Linked DNA regions of Homo sapiens: region 2 is linked to region 1. The links come from fine-mapping of genetic effects on plasma protein levels. Region 1 holds a variant in brackets. A gene starts in the other region. All regions are shown on their reverse strands.

Region 1 (8,000 bases):
ACGTCTACACACCAAAGCCAAGCACTTTGGCAGCAAATAAATAATAGCAAATTGATGAGACCTCTCCACGGCACTTCATCAGAAACATCCATCACACTGAGTCTAATTTAGTCACTGTGGTTGTGCCGACCTGGCATGAAAACAATCAGTCCTTTGGAAAATTAATTCATTAAAAAATTTGTTGGCTGACATCCTGAAGGGGGAAATAAAGCCTACGTAATTGCATTTTTCATTGTTCAACAGATAGTCAGGTTGTCATGTACATATTGCCGTAGTCTACAGGTTAAAATGACCTTATAACAACACATTCCATCTGCTTGGTTGGTTTGATCAAACCATACTAGAAACCCAAACACCAAGAAGACATCACAATTTTAGCAAGCAACTTCTTCCAATGATTGTTAAAGCTGAGATTTCAATTTCAGCACCACTACAAAACAAGTAGCATATTATTTTTTACTTATACAAAAAAGAAACCATTTCAAAGCTATTTATTTCCAGGAGATACGTTGCCTACAAAACACAAAAACTGACTCCAGGAAAATGGTTTAATAAAGGTCACCAAGTGAACCAGTATCTGCTACTGAGATCTGGTTTTCATTGAAGATGGTAGATGATGCAGAGAACTATTATTTGGAAATCTAACAAAACAAACTGTTCTCCATAGGATGGAAGTAATGTCTTTTATTTCTCCAACAAACGAAGCATTGGAAAAATAAACAGATGAGTGATTTTGATTTTGTAATGAAAACAAAGCTTGTTTCCTTAGCTTAATCCTCAAAGTGTGGCTTTTACACCTTCATATAAGAGAACGTACCTACTGAAGAACCAAATCGAAGATTACTTTGAAACATTAGCTGATTTTATTTTTCAAATGAAGCAAAATACACAGGTATGTTTGAAAAACAGCATCCCATAAAGTAAGCAATCCATAATCAAAATCACATTCTAGCTATAGTGCTATTGTCAGCTCTGCTTAAATCATGTCATTTTTTTCAGCTCTCAGATAACTTTTTTTCAGCTCAGTAAGTAGGTAGATGTTAGACGCTAAGGTCATCTAAAAGATTTACTTCAAAATAAATTCAACAATTCAGTGCATCACCCTCTCTACGGTGTAAAGTGTGCCTTGCTTTGAACATGCATATAAAATTTCATTAAAGTGTAACATAAAAGTTTTACATTAGAAGAACCCAGGGCTGGACCTTTGTTTAACAGTCATGATAATTTATGGTGTGGATCTGCTACAGTTAAGTAGAAAAACAGCCTTCTCATGATGAAATACAAGTCATAAAGACTGAAACTCAAGGAAAGCTGGAGGAATCCCAACCCTCCGACCACTCATATTTTCCTCAGATTTTTGTTACACATTCTTTATTAATGTTCTCAATGCAGATTGAGACACAATACCAGTCCGTTAATTCCTATAATGCTGTACCTTAAAAGATATTCTTTCCTCTTGTTTTTCTTTTGGGCTAAACATATCTTGGAATTCATAGAAATTCTGTTTCTTAAAAACATGCCAATTACATGGATACTATTTTTGCCTTTTCCTATTAATCTTCTTCTGTATCCATTGGTTATTCTCTTTATTTTCTGCAAAAAGATCAGACTGGCTAAGAGACATGAAAAGAATTACAAATAACTAATATACAATCACACAGGCAGAGGGACAGTATTATCACTAGGATTTAGTAAGTAACTATCCTTGAAAGAGACCTGCATTTGCATGGAACAGTCTTTGAGTCGAATGTGACTGTAACATCAATCAACAGATGTTTATTGAGTACCTCTGATGGAAAAACACTGTGCTAAATGATGCCAGAGGGTGACACACCATTCTCTAGGAAGCAACGTGGATATTTAAATATTAACAACTTAATGCACCAGTGGTGATGCAGCGAAAAGAGCAACAAACACATATCCTAAGACTATTCACCTACTGTGCAAATTCAGGCAAGTAACTTAACCTCTCTGAACTTCCGTTTTATTATCTACAAAATGAAGCTAAAATATCAATCCTAACAAATCTTTAAGGTTATTGTGAGGGTCCAATCAATTAATACATATGGTAAGATTAGAAAGCTTTGGAAAGAAATGTTACCAACTTCCCACCTCCAGTTTTGAGGCTCCAAATGAGCCAAAAAATATACCATGGTCTTCTTTATGTTCAAGTATCAAATCTTCAAAATTTGAGCATTCAGATTTAAATGAACAATTCTCAAGGACTTGAGATTTGTCTCCTTTATATATATATATATAATTTTCCATTCTCACATTTTCATGAAGGGGGCATCCATAAATGACATGCTAAGAGATTGTATCAGTATATAGACTGTTCTCTTTCTAATTAAAAGGAAAAAGCAGAGTTCCATGGCTGGTCAAATTACATGGTAATTCCACAGATTTCTTCCACAAGTACAATATACACAATCCAATCCATTTGTTTCAGTGACGGCTAAATAAATATTCGGATCCACACAAAAAATGAATGAATTTGCCATTCAATAAAATGGCAAGAACCCCTGAACATTCTAACTCACAATGATCAAATGAGATAGCATGTGGAAGAGCATTCCACATGTTGGAAAGGCTCAGACAAAACGTCAGTTGTTGATGATGCAGGCTCTGGAGTCAGCTCCATCTATGCTGAAACCTGGATTGCATCACTGAGTGAGTACCTGTGTGATTTCATTGCTTCATCTGTAAAACAGGGATCATAACAGGTCCTATCTCAGAAAGTTGTTGGAAGGATTAAACGAAATTGAGTCTTTACAGAATTTAGTCCAAGCTTGTGGCACAGAGTAAACACTCAAATTATAGTAGCAATGATAATGTTGAGTTCTACCACAGGTAACACACACACACACACACACACACACACACAGACACACACACTCAAAAAGGTTTCTTCAAGTTTGGTCTTGAGTTCTTTAATCAGTAACATTTCTTTCCATTTATCAGTAAGCAAGTTTTTGAAATCTCTCTTTATCCAACAGCAATCAGAAAAAGAAAAACAAAATTACAAGTGAAAAATGCAGTCACTGCAGCAAAAATTGTTTTGTCTACGTGACAGGCTAATCAAGTATATGGCAGTTTTCCGCTTTGAGGTATGACCTACAGTTACAAGCTCTTAAGGCCACAGCTCTAAATTGTTCCAGAGAAGGCCATTTCATTGGACTTCTACAATTTTGAAATTATGTTAAATAAGTGCAAATTTTGCATGGCAAAATAATCTTAGCTAAGAATCATGGGCATTTATTACATGTTAAAGGTTAGTACATTAAAGCCATTTCTATTCAACAATAATTAGCATGTTTAAATACAATATAATTTGTATCCATCTACAGGATGCTTAAATGTATGGAATCTCATTCATGTCTATAATGATGGACTCATTTTCCAGGCAGTCATTTTCTACCTTGATTTGTATATTTTAAAGTTGTTAAATGCTTGACTGAATCATTAGCAAAACAATTCATGTATCATTAAACTGATTTCTACCATGAGATAATTTTCTTCCGTGTCCAATAGATGTGCCTCTTAAGATGTACTGAGATAGCTTTTATTCTTTGGAGGGTTTGGGGAGTTGCGGAGGAGACCTTACTAGTGAATTTCACCAACTTAAATTTCTCCTACCCACACATTCCCTTAAGAAACACAACCTAAAATGGTTTGTTGAATGAATGCTCAAACACACGGGAGAATGCATACTGTACTAGCAAAGAAAACAGACCATAGGCAGTCTCCCTTTTAAGAGACCACAGAGGGAAAACGGGAAAGATAAATGGATGGAGGTAGAGAACAAGAAATGCTGGGAATCTCTAGGCCTTATTCAAAACAGGACTTCCCCTCCCCCCACCCCACCACAGCCCTAGTATCTCCAAGTTGGCAAAGGTTGTGTTCCCCCCATCTCCCACACCTTCCCATCCATAAACAGTCCTGTTCCGCTCTTCTGGAGGATTGTAGCTAACGAGGCCTCGGAAGACCTGTGCGCACAGAACAGGAGGAGGCAGCCGGGTTGCTGCAGTGCATGGGCCATGCCCGGCTGGAGCTGAAACAGTTCACTTTTGTCTAGAAAGCAGCCCCCCGCCCCTTCTCCGGCACTGCCCCGCCCTCGCAAGGTCGAAGAAAACTGGGGAAAGTGCAGTTCGGACTGCTGGGGCAGGCCCTGGGGGCTGCCTTTACCGGAGGAGGAGAGGCCTGGCCGGCACATGGCCCCTTCTCAGCCTTGACAGCCCCACACAGACCTTTGAACTTTCTATTTATATAACAGTTTAGTGAGTTTAAGTCTCTTCCTGTATAACTGCCCGTTTGCAAGCTTGCCTCTAATTAGGCTATTTGTGAGACATCACATAAAAACTACAAACAATTGATGCTGTCCCTTGCGGTGAGAAGCCAGCCACTGTCACAGTCACTTAACTACGATTTTAACTAGGCTTTTGAACGTTCTGATTTTGCTATCACGGTGGTTTTCTTTTCTTTTCTTTTCTTTTTTTTAAGAATGTGTCCCTTTCTGTATTTTCTTTCTTTTCTTTCCTTTCCTTCCTTCCAATGAAGAAAAGGTAAGCATCCCCACAAAGAACCTTGGCTTGTCACAAAGCAATACCTAATCAATACTGGGTGGGAGGTGCTTACAGAACTGAAAGGCTGTACATTTTGTAGGCCCTCTGAATTTGCTTTTTTTCCCTCTTAAATGGGGATTAATGACATCATTACCTGATCTTCAGTCACCTCAAGTATTCATTTACTTGGTTACCAAAAACAAGTCTATGGAATGATTTAAATGAAGAAATTTGATTTTTTTTTAATTTATCTTTTTCTTTAAGAGCAAGTGATGTCTTTCATGCACACAGACAGACATCTGTGCCATCTTTTTCTTTCACAGAATGGTTTATATTAAATTCAGACTCAGGTGAACATTGCTCATTCATCCAAGAATCTTAAAGAACTTGAGCTTTGGCCCTTTAATCGAGTCCAGAGCATGACCCATTAAGTTATTCTTGCAGTTTGTGAAATCCAGTGGTATGTTCCATTAGGCATGTGAGCATTCCAAAACACTGCACATAACATGCACACTGCAGCATCATTAGTACCCCATCCTTTCCATTTGCATTTGCCCTAACAAATGTGTGTGTTTATAAATGGGCACACACTTTTTGTTTACTACAGTCAAGTGTTTGCAAATAACACATATGCCTGTGTATGTAAAGTCTTTCTTCATTATGTCTAGGAAAATGAGTTTGTTTTTAAGCTGTCCTGATCCATTTATTGTCAGACATCTAGGGTTGCAGTAGAGACAGCTCAGAGCTTACTGTTCCATAAGTGAATGTTAAGAATAAATTCAAGGTAAATAAGATCGTTAACTTTGCTGGTCTTTTTTCCTTTCTTGGCCCTCCTGGGGGCTTGGGGGCGTGGGGAGTGGAGGCCATCACTTTAAGTAGCTATTTACTCCCAAGGAATGGAAGTAAACATATAATGAACACGTAACTGGCATGCTCTGGACTTCCAAAGAGAAGTGGGAAAGGTACCAATTTCCACTCAAGACAATGTCAAGCTTTTTAGTTCATCCACTATTGTCACATTTATGTTCCTTTTCTCTGTGGAGCTATACAAAACACAAAAGCACAACCACATTACAAATGTTTATAAACAGAGATGCATCACGAAGTGTGCCACTCACGAGCAGTAAGAAGGAGAAATTTTCCTGGATCATGTACAGAGGGAAAGGACAGGCTTATTTATGCAGATGCGTTACACTAATTAATCAGTATTTCACATAATATTCACGAAGTGTCCAAGTCTATGCTTCTTAACTGATGTGTCTCAGTTAGGGATCTGGAGGAAAAAAAGGTTTTGCATTTTCCTTAAGATAAGAAAAAGAAAGCCTCCCACAGGGGTGAGGGAGCCTATCATTTTTTTTAAAGAAATCAAACATAAAAGAGTCCATTCCCTTTAAATATGCAATTGCATATGCATAAGATTAAACCGGAATTAATATAAAAAACATGTTTCTAAAAACCTAATACCTTGTATATGTTTAACATTTGAACTATACCCATGAAATTAATTATAACAATGTCTGTTAAATTAACGATGTAACCCACACCACATATTAGGCAAATTGTATGCAAATAGAGTGCTATGGTTATCAGTTGTCTGCAAAATAAATTAGTGAAGCAGAGTAAAGGCTGTGTGCAGAAGCATAATATCTAATTGAGCAATAATTTTATAGTAATTTTTACTTTCAAATAACAGCATTTTTTAATGTAACAATGTATTTCTACAGAGCTGATAAAACCGTGGTATCCAAAACGCCTTATAGATTAATACTGATACAGCATAATTTGCGCTTCAAGGATTTATCCGGAATTGCTGTAAAATAAAATGTATTTAAGTTCTGA[C/T]TATCTTGGATTTGCAACTAAAGGAGGCATGATTGGCATAATGAAGCTGTTGGCTAAGCATATGACCCTTTTTTAAAGAAGGAAATTGCCTAAAATATCACATCAACAGGGGAAATCCTTGTAAAAATACACAGCATTCATAACCAACGGCCGCTAGTAGTTTAACATTGCAAAAGATTTCGCACTATTGGTAGGTACTACAGATCATTCTAAATACATTTTAAAAGGCAATAACCAAGAATGCAATTTTAAGCGGTTACCACTGCGCCCCCTCCCCATCTAATTCCTTAGACTGCGGGGGGAATCTGATACGTTTAAGTATTATGACAAATAAACTGTGATAATGTTTGTAGTAGGTGAAGTTTTTGAAAAGTTAATAGATATGTATATCAGTATTTATGCACACGCGCACGCACATCTCTAAGAGAGTTAACAACTTTCCAGGTCCCCAGTCACCTTTCTACCATCTTTCAAAATGTCTCAGCGACAAGTTTAGGGTATTTTGTGAAGAGCTGACTCAACCTTTGAATCTGAGCTGGAGGTCCCTTACAAAAAACTACGGCTGCCTCCCAGTGGGAGGCCGAAGGGGGTCCATCCGGTAATTAAATGTGCATTGACATCAGAGCTGCGGATTTGGGGGGCCAACTCCGAAAACCCTCAGTCTTGAAAGCCAAGCGCCGAAGTCGGCCTCGAACCAAGGTCCCCTGAGTGGTGGCCCCCAAAGCCGCTGCTCCACCCGGGAGTGCAGGGAACTTGGGCTGAGTCGGCAGAAGGAAAGGTGTGCGCGCCGCGCAGCGCAGGGATGGAGGTGGCGGCAGCGGGGGCGGTGGCCACCAAGGAAGCAGAGGGCTGCTGGCCGCACCTGGCCGTTGCCTTTCCCCCATGGCCCGCCGCGGGCGTTGGGCACCTGGAAAGTTGAGACATTTCGGGCGGGCGGCATCCGGGGCTCAAGGAGGCCAGACCGGCAAGCCGCTCCGAGAGAAAAGCTCCTGGGAGGTCGTGCGGTTCAGCCCTCGGGCGGCACCGAATTCGATGTGAGCCAAATGCAACTCTTTAGACTTGGAGCGCAAAGCGACGCTTTCGGGTCCGCATCCCTCCCTCTTCCCGCACCTCCCCCCACCCCGGCATCCGACCTAGGAGTCAGCGCGGCCGGGGCCAGAGGTGGCTGAGAGCAAGTGGGAGGGAGTCCGGGGCGCCCCCCACGACAGCTTCAGCTCCTCTTAACAAAGGCGAAAACCTCAGACTTCGCCAGGAGACTCGCTCATCAAAGGAGAAGGCAAAAATCAACACCTACCACTGCTGCTCCAAGTCCCAGTCTCTGAAAAAGTCGAATAGATCCATAGCGGCCAGGCGGCGGCGGCGGGCGGGCGCCTGTCCCTGATCGCAGCGGGTCGGCGCGGCTCTCGGCACAGCTCGCTGGCGGTTCTCGGCGGCCCCCGGCTCTCCAGCCCTCCCGCCCAGCTAAAAGTGTCCGGGCCGCATCGGCAGCAGCAGCGGGCGCTGGAGGTGTCTGGTCCTGTGCTCCGGCGAGGAAGCGGCGGCAGTGGCACTGGGCGGGCAAGCGCCTGGTCGCCCACTCGGGTCCGCTCGGTCCGCGGT
Region 2 (12,144 bases), not on the chromosome of region 1:
GAGTATAAGCCAAGAGATATGCTGTTTCTACTAGCTTAAGATACATTGGAATTAATTATGTATGCAGTGTCACATTTTTTCATCTTAACTGACTTATCATTAGCAAATATCTAATATAAGCCTCCATGTACCAGAGACTGCCTCTCTTCCAAGTATAACTGTAAAGAAACTGAAAACAAAGAGTAACCTTTCTGTTAATAATAGACTCCTCTCTAGGACTCTATTACTACCAACCAAGTTGTGTTGGTTGGTAGGAATTTAAATTAGTACAGCTATTATGAAAAACATTATGGAGATTCCTATAAAAATTAAAAATAGAACTACCATATTATCTGATAATGCCCCTATTGGATCTATATCCAAAGGAAGTGAAATTAGTATGTTGAAGAGATATCTGCACTCCCATGTTTATTGAAGCACTATTCACAATAGCCATGATAAGGAAGCAACCTTATGGATATGGATAAAGAAAGTGGGATATATATATATATCACATTTTATGTGTGATATATATATGTCACGTACACACACACATACACACACAATGGAATACTATTTGGTCATAAAAATAAAATAAGAAAATCCTGCCATTTGTGACAACATGAGTGAATCTGGAGGATATTATGTTAAGTGAAATAAGCTAGACACAAAGGACAAATGCTGTATGATCTAACTCATATGTGGAATCTAAAAAACTTCATGTCAAGAAAACAGTAGAATGCTGGGCATTAGAGCTTATGGGTGGGACGTAAGAAGGCATGTTGAGATGTTGGTTAAAGAACACACATGTACAGTTTGGAGGGGAGTAAGTTCAAGAGATCTATTTTACAGCGTAGCAATTACAGTTAATGGCAAATATTATATTCTTGAAAAGATGCTAGAAGAGTGGATGTTAAGTGTTCTCACCACAAAAATAAAAACTAAGAAAAGTAACGCATTTGTTAGTTATCTAGATTTAACCATTCCACAATGTATTTATACAGTAAGTCCTCATTTAACACAGTCAATACATTTTTGGAAACTGCGACTTCAAGTGAAACAACATACAGCACATCTTTTAATAACATCGTTTTTTTCAACATCATATCATTATAATGTCAATGAGAAAAAAATGCTGTTTTTATGCATCATTTTCCAGGACCTATTTGTGATGTATGAGGACTTACTCTACTACAAGACATGTTGTTCATTATAAATACATACGATTTTGTATGTCAATTTTAAAAATAAATATGTACATTGAAAAAAATCAAAGTTGGATTTGTTAACTTCATTCGGGCCCAAAGTTTGTTCATCCATTAATACCAACTCATCTCCAATTTTTGGTATATAAACATCTTTTATTTACCCATAAAGTGTATTCCTCTACTTGAATTCTTACAGCCATTACAATGGGCAATACAGATATTATCACCAATCACGTGGATTCATATGTTTTTCTACAGTTTTTTTTTTTCACATGCTAGTCTTACTGCTTCAGTAACTCAGGGACAGAATTTTTCAGTTCTCTTAGCACTCAGGTTAGTACAGTCAAAAAATGTTTTCTACACACCAACATTTTGATCCTCACAACACTAGGTATTATTTTTGTCTCTATTTTACAGGCAAGAAAACAGAATTGGATTAAAACCAAGACTAGCAAGAGTCAAGGACTTAGCAAACAAATACATCCAATTAGTGAAAGAAGCAAGACAGAGCCTTGTTTTCCCTTTTCCTTAAACAGAGACATACATAATTTTAAATATGGAAGGACTTTTTAAGTTATTTTGTCTGCTCCTTCACTTTTAAAATGAGATAAATGAATCATGTGATCATGATAAGCACCTTCACTGTTTTTTACATCATCTTTATAATATGCAACTATTGTAATAATGCAAATATTATCCCATATTATGGTGGATGCTGTTTAGGTATTGCACAGAGATCCCATCCCAGAGGCAATGCTTCTGTCCCCCAGATGTTGTGAGAATTAGCTACTGTGCCCACATCTGCCCCCTCTCAAGAGAATTGCCTTTGGCAGAGGAGAACCACCTTGTCATCTCCCCACTGTTACTAATGACTGACTGTTCATAGGTTTAAAAAGGCTGTCTGCAGCACTGCCTCTATTAATCAGGGAAGACTAGATTTTACCTGAGAACACATTCTTCTTTAGCTCTTTGTCCTCCCCTGACCTGCTTCACTCTTTTCCTTTCTGCTGCAATGTACTTCCTCAATAAATCAGAGCCAATGTAATTTGTGTCTCAGTGTATTTCTTGCAAACCTGACCTAAGATCGTGTGATCTTATATGGGTGTGTGCATGTGTGTTTGTGTGTGTGTAATAAATAATACACTGAATGGTGAAACACATAAATAATTTATAATTCTGATATTTCACTCATATAATTAGGCATTGAGTGACAAAAAGTAATCAGGATATTAACCAAAGGGACTGAGGAAGCAAGAGAAAAATGCAAATAAATTGACACACAGACTATACCTTTCTTGGAAATTAATAAGTCACTAAATTAAACCATTATATTAAAGGATAATTCAACAAAACAACAACTGATTTATAAATCTACTATTTATTAATGAGAGCAGAGTAAAATTAATTCTAATTCTAAAATGCACCTGAGTCTGTGCTCCTTAATTTATTGGTGAGGATACAGAAAATGAGAGATGCTCAATCATTTTGTTAAAGTCACCCTGACAGGCTTTGATAGAACTGCACCTTAAACACTTGAATTTCTGGTTAAACTATGATTGTTTCCTAAATACCTAAAACAAGAAAGACTTCTTATAAAGACTCCTGAATTGGCAGTTCAATCAAACAAAATGCATTCGTGGAAGACTTTTATGTACTCAGGAAATACCAGGCTTTGGAAGGGATAATAATACAAATGTTAATAATTCCATTTATTGAGTGTCACATGCCAAGCATCGCACTAATAGTTTAATTATGTATTCAGTACATTTTTATACACAAATTATGCTTTTCAGTCATTAAAACCAACGTATGATATGAAAATTCACATTTCAGAGAAGAGAAAACTGAAGCTCAGAAAGGATTTCTCAGACCTGGCAATTTCCAAAGACTGTAATCAGTAAACTATAGGTAGTTGGTAATAATGGGGAAGTAAAAGTCATAAAAAGCTGGGTCAAGAGTTCAGCTGTAAGGCAGGGATCCCAGTTGCCCTTGTAATAACTAGTCAGTTTTGGGTGGTCAGTGTAGAAATCCCAGGAAGGCAGCATTCAGATGTTGTTGTATCTAAGATGAGAGAAGGGCTGACTAGGAAGAGATGGAAGCTGTGCTTTATTTATTCATATTATAGACAATCTGGTTACACTGTACTAGTCAAAGCATAGGAATAGAAGAATAATTTTAAAGAGTAAGAAAAGGAGCATTCCTAAAACAAAATGTAATGATTAATAGCAACAGTCGCTAAGAGACTCATTGATAAGTTTCAATAGAATAGTGGGAATAGATTAAAATGTATATACAGGAACAAACTATTTGCTCTTTTAAGATGGAACTTAGATATCCAAATAAGAGCTGGAAGACACTCACTGCTAAAATTGGGAGACATGGATCATGAAGGGCCAGCAATGACCTTGGGACACGTAAATACAGAAAAGACAACCTAATCATGGGAAATGAGAGAACAAAGGTGACTAGAAACAGCCATTTTGGACACTTAAGGTCAGATTGAAGTCAGTCTGTCAGTCCAACGTGTGTATGGTATTTTGTGACCCAAAAAGACCACATATACTTATTTAGCTTAATAATAAATGTACCAATATTTGACAAGCAAAATGCCTTCTACATCATGGTGCATCTAGTGGTCATTTAGTCATAACTCAGTAAAAAGTTAGAGAAAAACTATCAAGTTTGAATAATGAGGCAAAAATATTTTTCCTTTTTATACTGTTTTGTGTCTACTTATGGTAATTTCTCACAGAACTGCCTATAGCTTAGTAAGTCAAACCATGTCCTAAAACTCAAGTGCAATCCCACAGCTTACAAATATTAGGGGTAGGTTTGTCTAGATACAGAAGAAAAGTGCATAAAGTGGGAGAGAATTAACACTGGAAATACTTACTACATGGCAGGCAGCTTACATATATTATGTATCACAATTAAATACAATTAATATTATTCCCATTTATGATAAATATGAAAATTTACAATCAGAATAATAATTTCCTAATAAAGTAGGTGCTGTGGCTCATGCCTGTAAGTCCAGAACTTTGGGAGGCCAAGACAGGAGGATTGCTTGAAGCCAGAAATTCGACACTAGCTGGGCAACATAGCAAGACTCTGTCTCTACAAAAAAATTTAAAAAATTAGCTGTGTATAGTAGTGCACACCATGGTCTCAGCTCCTTGGGAAGCTGAAATAGGAGATCCCTTGAGCCCAGAAATTCAAGGCTACAATGAGTTCTGATCTAACCACTGCACTCCAGTTTGGATGATAGAGTGAGATCCTGCTTCAAATAAAATAAAATATGATATAAAATAAAATAATAAAATATAAAAATTTCCCAATACACATTGGTATAGAAATTTAGCCCATTTCCATTAAAACAGAAATATCAAGCTTTTAACAACATTCTACACCACTAAGTAGAGAAGAGAATGGGCTGTGGATGCTTCTGGGTCTGGTCCTTCCCCACAAAATACATTTTGCCACAGAAAGAGGATTGTGTAGAAGGTTGTTCCATGGTGATTTTTTCCACATAGCTGATTTGGTTTATTGAGAGCTTCCACTTCACATGTTCATAAAGTAAACAGATTCTAGGAGTTACTTGGAGACATGGCAGCAAATGGTTAACCATTTTTTAATGGTAAAATCTGACCTGAGTTTCTGAGTTCTCAACTCTCTTATAACAGACATTTAGAAGTATCCAATTCTTGAACTCAAAATTAACTATAATTTTAAAATGTGCCTATTGTGTAGACATTGATCTGTGATTATACATTTTGTCACATTGATCAATAAAGCTAAATATAAAAATGAAAATGAACAGAAACTATTGAATTATGCACCACAAGGTGCAATCTATATGCCAATATGAGCATGCAGAAATGTCTGCGTGCTATGTATATGCTACTTGTGATTTATTAATTTATACTTCTTTATTTATATAAACTCAATATTTAAGATTATTGTATTTTAGAATCAGAGGAAATCTGAAATTGTTAGTCCACCCCACTTCATTATTGTGCTATGGAAACAAGCCTGGAATGATTGACATCTTCCATAGATGAACAGAACCAAATAATGATAATTTAGCTTGGAGATCAATATTATCTTTAATTTTATACAACCAGAAAATACAAGTAAATACAGCACATCTTTGAATATAGAAATACCAATGAGTTATGGTGTGTTTGGCCATTGAGTTCTGAAAGTCACTGTGGCCTTGTATTTACAAACATTAAAGATAAAATTATTATCCAAAACAGTAATGTCCAATAGATTATTAATAAACATTTTAGATAGCTGTAAAAAACATTGTGTTCTCTAGAGTTCATAAAAATTATGAGCTTAATTTCAATCCAACAGAAATAATTCTGAAAACTCTAATGTTGTGATGCTAATAATTGGGCTAAGAATTTTCAAACTATTGACTGGCAAAAACATGGATAAATTGTAATATATGAACTTCAAAGAATAAATGCACAATTACAAAACTTGATATAGCAATTTATTTTTAAAAGCCATTTGAGGAATCACCAAATAATTTCAAAATCATGACTAGAAAACCAGCAATGAAATTTGAGACTACTGGTATGACAAATCCTGTTTCAGGCCTTGTTGATCTAGAGTTACTTGCACAACCAGAATTTGCCAAAACAGGAAATAGGTGTTTCATATATACGGCTCTAACCTTCTCTCTCTGCACCTTCCTTCTGTCAATAGATGAAACAAATACTTCATCCTGCTCTGGAAACCACTGGTAAGTGATAACTCCTTTATTTCAAGGTGAACATTATTTATTTCAAGGTGAACAACACATTTATACCTTATCAATGATAAAGTGATATATTCGTATATTTTATCTACAATTTTCCAAAGTTTATTGATAACTTTTAATGAGAGTAATTATCTTAATATATTCATTTTAAGCTGAGAAGCTAATACATAGACAGCTTTATTATTCCAAAAGCACTTTTATCCAGTTTGAAATTTAAATAAATTTTTACCTTTCATTCTAAAGTAATATAACTAATTCCCATGTCTATGACTTGTGGAAACAATTGTACTAGAACTATTTTTAATAGAAAAATGAAAAACTATGAATATATGTGTGTGCATACTTTCACATCAGTAACTTTTACTAATATTAAAACATACAGCTATATGGGATGCCATAGCAAAAGTTTTAAATTGGTCAAAACAAAATTATAGCACTGATCTCAAGATTAAAAAGTATTTTATTAAAGACCATCAACATAAAATGCAATTTACCTCATGAAATGCACTCAGATCAAAAACAAAAAAAAAAGGCTTTTAGAAGTTTTTCAGTCAAAAGTCAGTCTACTCAGTCATGTTTATGTAGGTAATTTAAATATAATATCTATCGTGCATATTTCATCTAAGGAAGCAATTTCCACATACGGCTTTATCTTCCGTAGCATATTAGAAGTGATTCTGAAGAGTCAGATAGTAGGAGACCACAGAACTACCTAATGACAACATGAAAGGGGTTATTTACCACTAGACAGAAGATTTTAAAGTAAAATGCTTTTCTTCCCTGTGGCTAAATGCTATCCAGGAAACTCTGGGAGTATTTGCAATAGCCATAGAAGATCCGGTGTTGCCTCTTCTGCTAGTTAAAACCAAATCTAGAATGTCTGCCTGTATGACTAAGACCTCTGAAAGTGGATCAAAAGAAATTAAATTGATGACAAGTTTCAAGCCTGGGAGTTACCCTACATTGATAAGTTATGAGGTAAATTGGGGCTTCTGATTTGTAACAGGCAGGGATGAATTGGGAGGAAGAGTGTCAGAATTCTCAAGTAATGTAAATCTGATAATTGCTATGAATTTCAGTTACGTTATTTATTGAATTCAAGTAAAAGGGAGGGAATTCATCCTTGAAAAAAAAGTGCTTCTCAAGAAATGCAAGACAGCTATTCTTATTTGGATATCTTTACGAATTTCTTACTTGATGAAGTCTAGCAGTTTTGCAAACTTTGCATATTGGCATAGGCTGCTTTCTGTATCACAGATACATAATAAGATGAAAGAAAGTGATCAGAATAAAGATTAACTATTAAATTTTAAGTAAGAAAATATTGCATCAAATACTTTTCTGTGCTGTGACTAGTTTATAAATGTGTCTATACCTATAGTGCACACATTATACTCACATGTGTTAATGCTTTTGACATCTTTTCTAATCCACGTAATCCTTTAAAATATTTCTATAGTCTGTTCTTCCTCCTTTGCTTTTTAATGTTACGATGTTTGGTCTGTCTCTTAAGTTTTGTATTTTCCTCCACCAGTTGATTTATCTGTTCCTACAATAATATTAAATTTTTGTCAACAAATGTTTGAAGTCTATCTTAATAACTAATATGAAAAGATAACCCAATTAATTCTTTCTTTTTTTTCTTTTTCTTTTCTTCTTCCTTTTTTTTTTTTTTTTTTTTGAGATGGAGTCTTGCTCTGTCGCCCAGGCTGGAGTGCAGTGGCACACTCTCGGCTCGCTGCAACCTCCACCTCCTAGTTTCAAGCAATTCTCCTGCCTCAGCCTCCCCAGTAGCTGGGATTACAGACATGCACCACCATGCCCGGCTAACTTTTGTAGTTTTAGTAGAGACGAGGTTTCACCATGTTACGCAGGGTGGTCTCAAACTCCTGAGCTCAGGCAACCCACCCTCCTTGGCCTCCCAAAGTGCTAGGATTACAGGCATGAGCCACTGCGCCCAAGCAATTCTTCTTTTAAAAGTTTACTCAGTTATTCATAAGCCACTTAAAATTTGTATTGGAATTAAAGTAAACAATTATCAGGTTAGTTTAGGATTGATATCTTTATGCTAACATGTACCATTTAAAAGCATTACAAAACTCTCAATTTATTCAGAACTTCTGCTATGTTCTTTATTAAAGTTTTAAGATTTTTTCCAAAAAGGATTTTTAAATTTGTTTTGTTGTTTCCCAGATACTGTATAGTTTTTTTAACTGTTATAAGTGTTTCTTAAATCTTATATTCTAGTTGAGTGTTTCCAGTAATAGAAATGGTATTTTTGTAAGTTGATAGTGCATCTAGCAAAATTGTTAATTTTGGTGTGTTCTCCAGATAGATGATCTTATCATTTGAAAACAATAACAATTTTACGTCTTCTCTTACAAAAGTTACAAATATTTTATATATAATAATATATTTTATATTATTATATATAACATAAAATGTATACATTACATTACTTGTATATATTATATATATATATATGTATATACTTTCTTTTCTTATGGCTTTGATTAGGATCTCTCCAGTACTGTGTTAAATAAAAGTGTTAGTCATTCTTTTCTTGTTCCCAATATTAAATGAAATGCACCTAGAATTTCTCCAATAACCATTATATTGGGTATAGATTTGCAGTATATGCTTCCTACCAAAGTAATGATCTCTTCTATTTTTTCTTTAAAAAAAAAAAAAAAAAAAAAAACTACATACAGGGGTTGAATTTAATGACGTATTTTTTGTCATATTACTTTGCTTTAGTCTGTTAATGTGATGAATTTTACCAATGAATTTTCTAATTTTGAATTATTCTTGCAGTCCTCATATAATTTTACTTGGTCATGATATTTTTAATATATTTTTGAAATTGATGAGTTAATATTTTGTTAGGATTCTTGCAATTCATTTATGAAGTGGGCTTATGTATTATTTACTATTATTCTTACGTCTTTTATGAGTCAATCCCGGAATTATATCCACTCCTCAGATTACATTTCAGGAAAAAACAGCATTGGGAGGAAGTAGTCAAGCTAATTTGAACCATACAACACTAGGGAGTAAGAAGGCGTGAGTATAAGAGCACTGGAGAGTGCTATCACACATGACCTTATTATCATTGGTTCTTCACACAGGATGGTACTTTCGTTTTTTGTTTTTTTTTTTTTGGTGGTTTTTTTTTGTTTGTTTTTTTTGTTTGTTTGTTTTTTGTTTTTTGTTTTTTTTGAGACGGAGTCTCGCTCTGTCGCCCAGGGCAGTGGCGCGATCTCGGCTCACTGCAAGCTCTGCCTCCCGAGTTCACGCCATTCTCCTGCCTCAGCCTCCCGAGTAGCTGGGACTACAGGCTCTCGCCACCATGCCCGGCTAATTTTTTGTATTTTTAGTAGAGATGGGGTTTCACCGTGCTAGCCAGGATGGTCTCGATCTCTTGACCTCGTGATCTGCTCACCTCGGCCTCCCAAAGTCCTGGGATTACAGGCATTAGCCACCGCATCCAGCCCCACACAGGATGGGTCTTACAGTTCTTCGATGCTACTTTGCTGACACATAGCACTAGAGCAAGCGTTTTTCTGTTGTTGCAGAATTTTGCAAATAAAGAGGAATCGATTGTTTTGAGGCAAGAGTAGAAACTAACAGGCATTACTTTAGACCAACCACTGCTGTTGGATGCAGCACTCCCCTCTCCTTCACATTCACTATACACAACACACACACACACACACACACACACACACACACACACATCCATATACACATTCTAGAAGTCATGAGAGACTTTATTCTCCTCAGATTTTCTCACTATCTTTTCAGTATTTTCTTGGAATCCCTGTTTCCCTCTTGCTTCTATAATTTTTTCAGAGTTAATTTTGGGGTGGCAGCAAGAAGCTTGCTTATTTTGATATTGTGCCTGAAATAAAAGCCAAAGGCTTGCTTTATAAATAGACCATTTGATTAATTCTTCTCTTAGCACTAAGCAAATTTGTCCTACTTCCTAATTTGCAAATCCTTATTTCCACAAAATGGACTGTTAAAGCCAGATATGCCTATAGAAGTTTTTGTAGATATATGTTGTCAGTCAATATGCAGTGATATCAGGTCATTTGATAAAATGATTTCCTTTTCCAAGGGAGTGTTTCAAACATACCAGTGGTCCTAACATCAGTGTGAAGAAGGCACAGTATGTTACAGTTTAATTGTATTATATACATTTATGCTTCAGAAAGACACAATTTGCTCTGCTGTAGATCTGGAATTAGTAGCAAACCATCACTATTTGAAATCATAAATCTTTGAAATCCAGGGACTTGGTTTTTCTCTAATCACACTTGAGATAAATTATTAATTTCTTTGAAAAAGGAAAACCAGAACAGAACAGAAAACCATATAAAAGGTAGGACTCAGTGACTTACACATAGCAAAATAACTCTTTCAAGTGAAATGAATTAAGAGAAATCTACTGCTTATTTCCAAGGAATAGTAGAAAATAATGTATAACTAATACACTTAGAAATTGCTTCATGGAAGTGAATGACAGGAGAGGCTATTTTTTTTTCATTCTTTCTAGTACCTTCTATGTGACGCTACTACTAAATGGAATTGCAAACAAATCATTTTCCACTTGCACCTGCTATTTACAGTAGTCCCTTGGGAGGAGAGGTGGGGATGGAGTGAAATATTACAGCGACTCTCTGTCACCATTATTGGTCTTAAAGCTGATGTTACATCTTTATCATATTTATCTCATTCAAGTTGTTTACTCCCTGAGCCCTGAATTGTGCTAGATTCTTCCCCATCTCTCTCCATAAAGCATTGGAATGGATCACTGTAAAAGGAAATAAAATTTTACTCTCCTCTTTTGCACACATGAGAAAATTCAACCAGCTCCCCCTCTGGGTACTTGAATGATGAGCTCCCGTAATTATATACCAGGACTCTGAGGGCAAGAACCAAGTCTTGTTCACTTGATCATGTGCAGCAATATTATAACATGTTATCCTGAATAGAGTGTACAAAACTTGATAAATGTCTCCTAAAGGAAAGAAGAATACCTAATTGTCTTTGACTTACAAATGAAAATAAGAATCTGTTTTTCCTCTTTTGCTCTCAAATTCTGCAGGAGACGCACTAGAGGGCCCATCTCTAAATACAGCACACTAGGAGTTAGGGCATCAACATATTGATTTAGAAGTGGAAGCAGGGCCAGGTTAAGTTATTTCTGAGTGAGTTTCAAGGTCTATAACACTAGTAGTTTGAAATCTTCTGGAGCTCCAGATCTGCATTCTGGCAACATCATTTTTCGTGGATTCTTTTTTTTTTTCAGACTTCAAGTGTATTTATTAATGCATTGGACAAAATAAAACCACACTTGTTATCAAAAGTATATCTCCCCTGCTCCCATTTTCTTGTTCTTCCATTGGAAATATCTTTGAAAAAGTGATACAAATGGATACCAGCAAAGTCCCATATTTGCGGGGTGATTGTGGGGCGATGCTGGGACGAGATGGTTTGTGACATTGACTTTAATAGCATGAAAATGGGTTTTGCAAGTGTATATCAGGCTGCATCCCAATACTTAGATTCACAGTGGGCGGGGTGGTGGGGTGCAGAGGTGCTGGTTAGGAGAAGGAAAGCTGAATTTAGTGCTGGGAACCAGTCTGGGGTGGAAAGCTCTTCCTCTGGGAGTTCTGTGGGGATTTGGTGTTAGCTAAGTTCATAGTCTAAGGGAGACCCAGTCCCAGCCCCCAGAGCTGAGGTTCAGGAGGAACCAGTGAATAACTAAGAAGGAAGAGCTTTTGTAGGATGAGTCACTACTTCTATTAACGTTCAGTCCAAATCAGAAGGCTAAGGATCTACCATATACTATTTGTTCTGCTTTCTTGTTTTTAAACTTAACACTGAAGCATAAGCTTCTTCTCTGAGGTTACAAAACAACCATAAATGTATAGTGGTTTTTATGTCTAATATACTGCCATAAGAGGATGTATTCTCATTTACTTAGACATTATATCTCCCTATTGCTAGGCATGTAATTAATTTACAATGTTTTAACCCTTATAAATGATAACATGATGAAAATTTTATGCTTAAAACTTTTTAGTATAGTTTATAATTTCAGTAGAATTCTAAGAAGTTGAATTAGTGAGATAAAGAATGTGAACATATTAAGGATATTAATACAGATAGGGTGAGTAA

Direction of the effects. Alleles are on the strand shown, and positions count from the first base shown. The strength of an association depends on the size of the effect and on how common the allele is.
With allele T in place of C in region 1, the plasma level of the protein whose gene starts at base 5,883 in region 2 is lower (weak association).

What was found. PIP is the posterior inclusion probability: the model's chance that the variant is causal. The UK Biobank Pharma Proteomics Project read protein levels with antibody pairs (Olink). The fine-mapping took linkage between variants from a reference panel, not from the people measured, so its PIPs are less certain.
Region 2: CRISP3 starts here. The variant in region 1 is fine-mapped to the plasma level of the CRISP3 protein (UK Biobank, PIP above 0.99).

What each region holds. Positions count from the first base shown.
Region 1 is chrX:148,500,840-148,508,839 of GRCh38, reverse strand. AFF2 (ALF transcription elongation factor 2) reads right to left here. Exons shown (of 21, transcript NM_002025.4): 1 at 7,696-8,000. The coding sequence starts at 7,742. Among named protein-coding and RNA genes, the nearest start is that of AFF2, 4.2 kb to the right of the region's middle. RefSeq lists an enhancer at 6,686-7,563. The variant C/T (reference allele first, on the strand shown) is at 6,402.
Region 2 is chr6:49,738,127-49,750,270 of GRCh38, reverse strand. It overlaps CRISP3 (cysteine rich secretory protein 3), which reads left to right and starts at 5,883. Exons shown (of 8, transcript NM_006061.4): 1 at 5,883-5,940. The coding sequence starts at 5,904.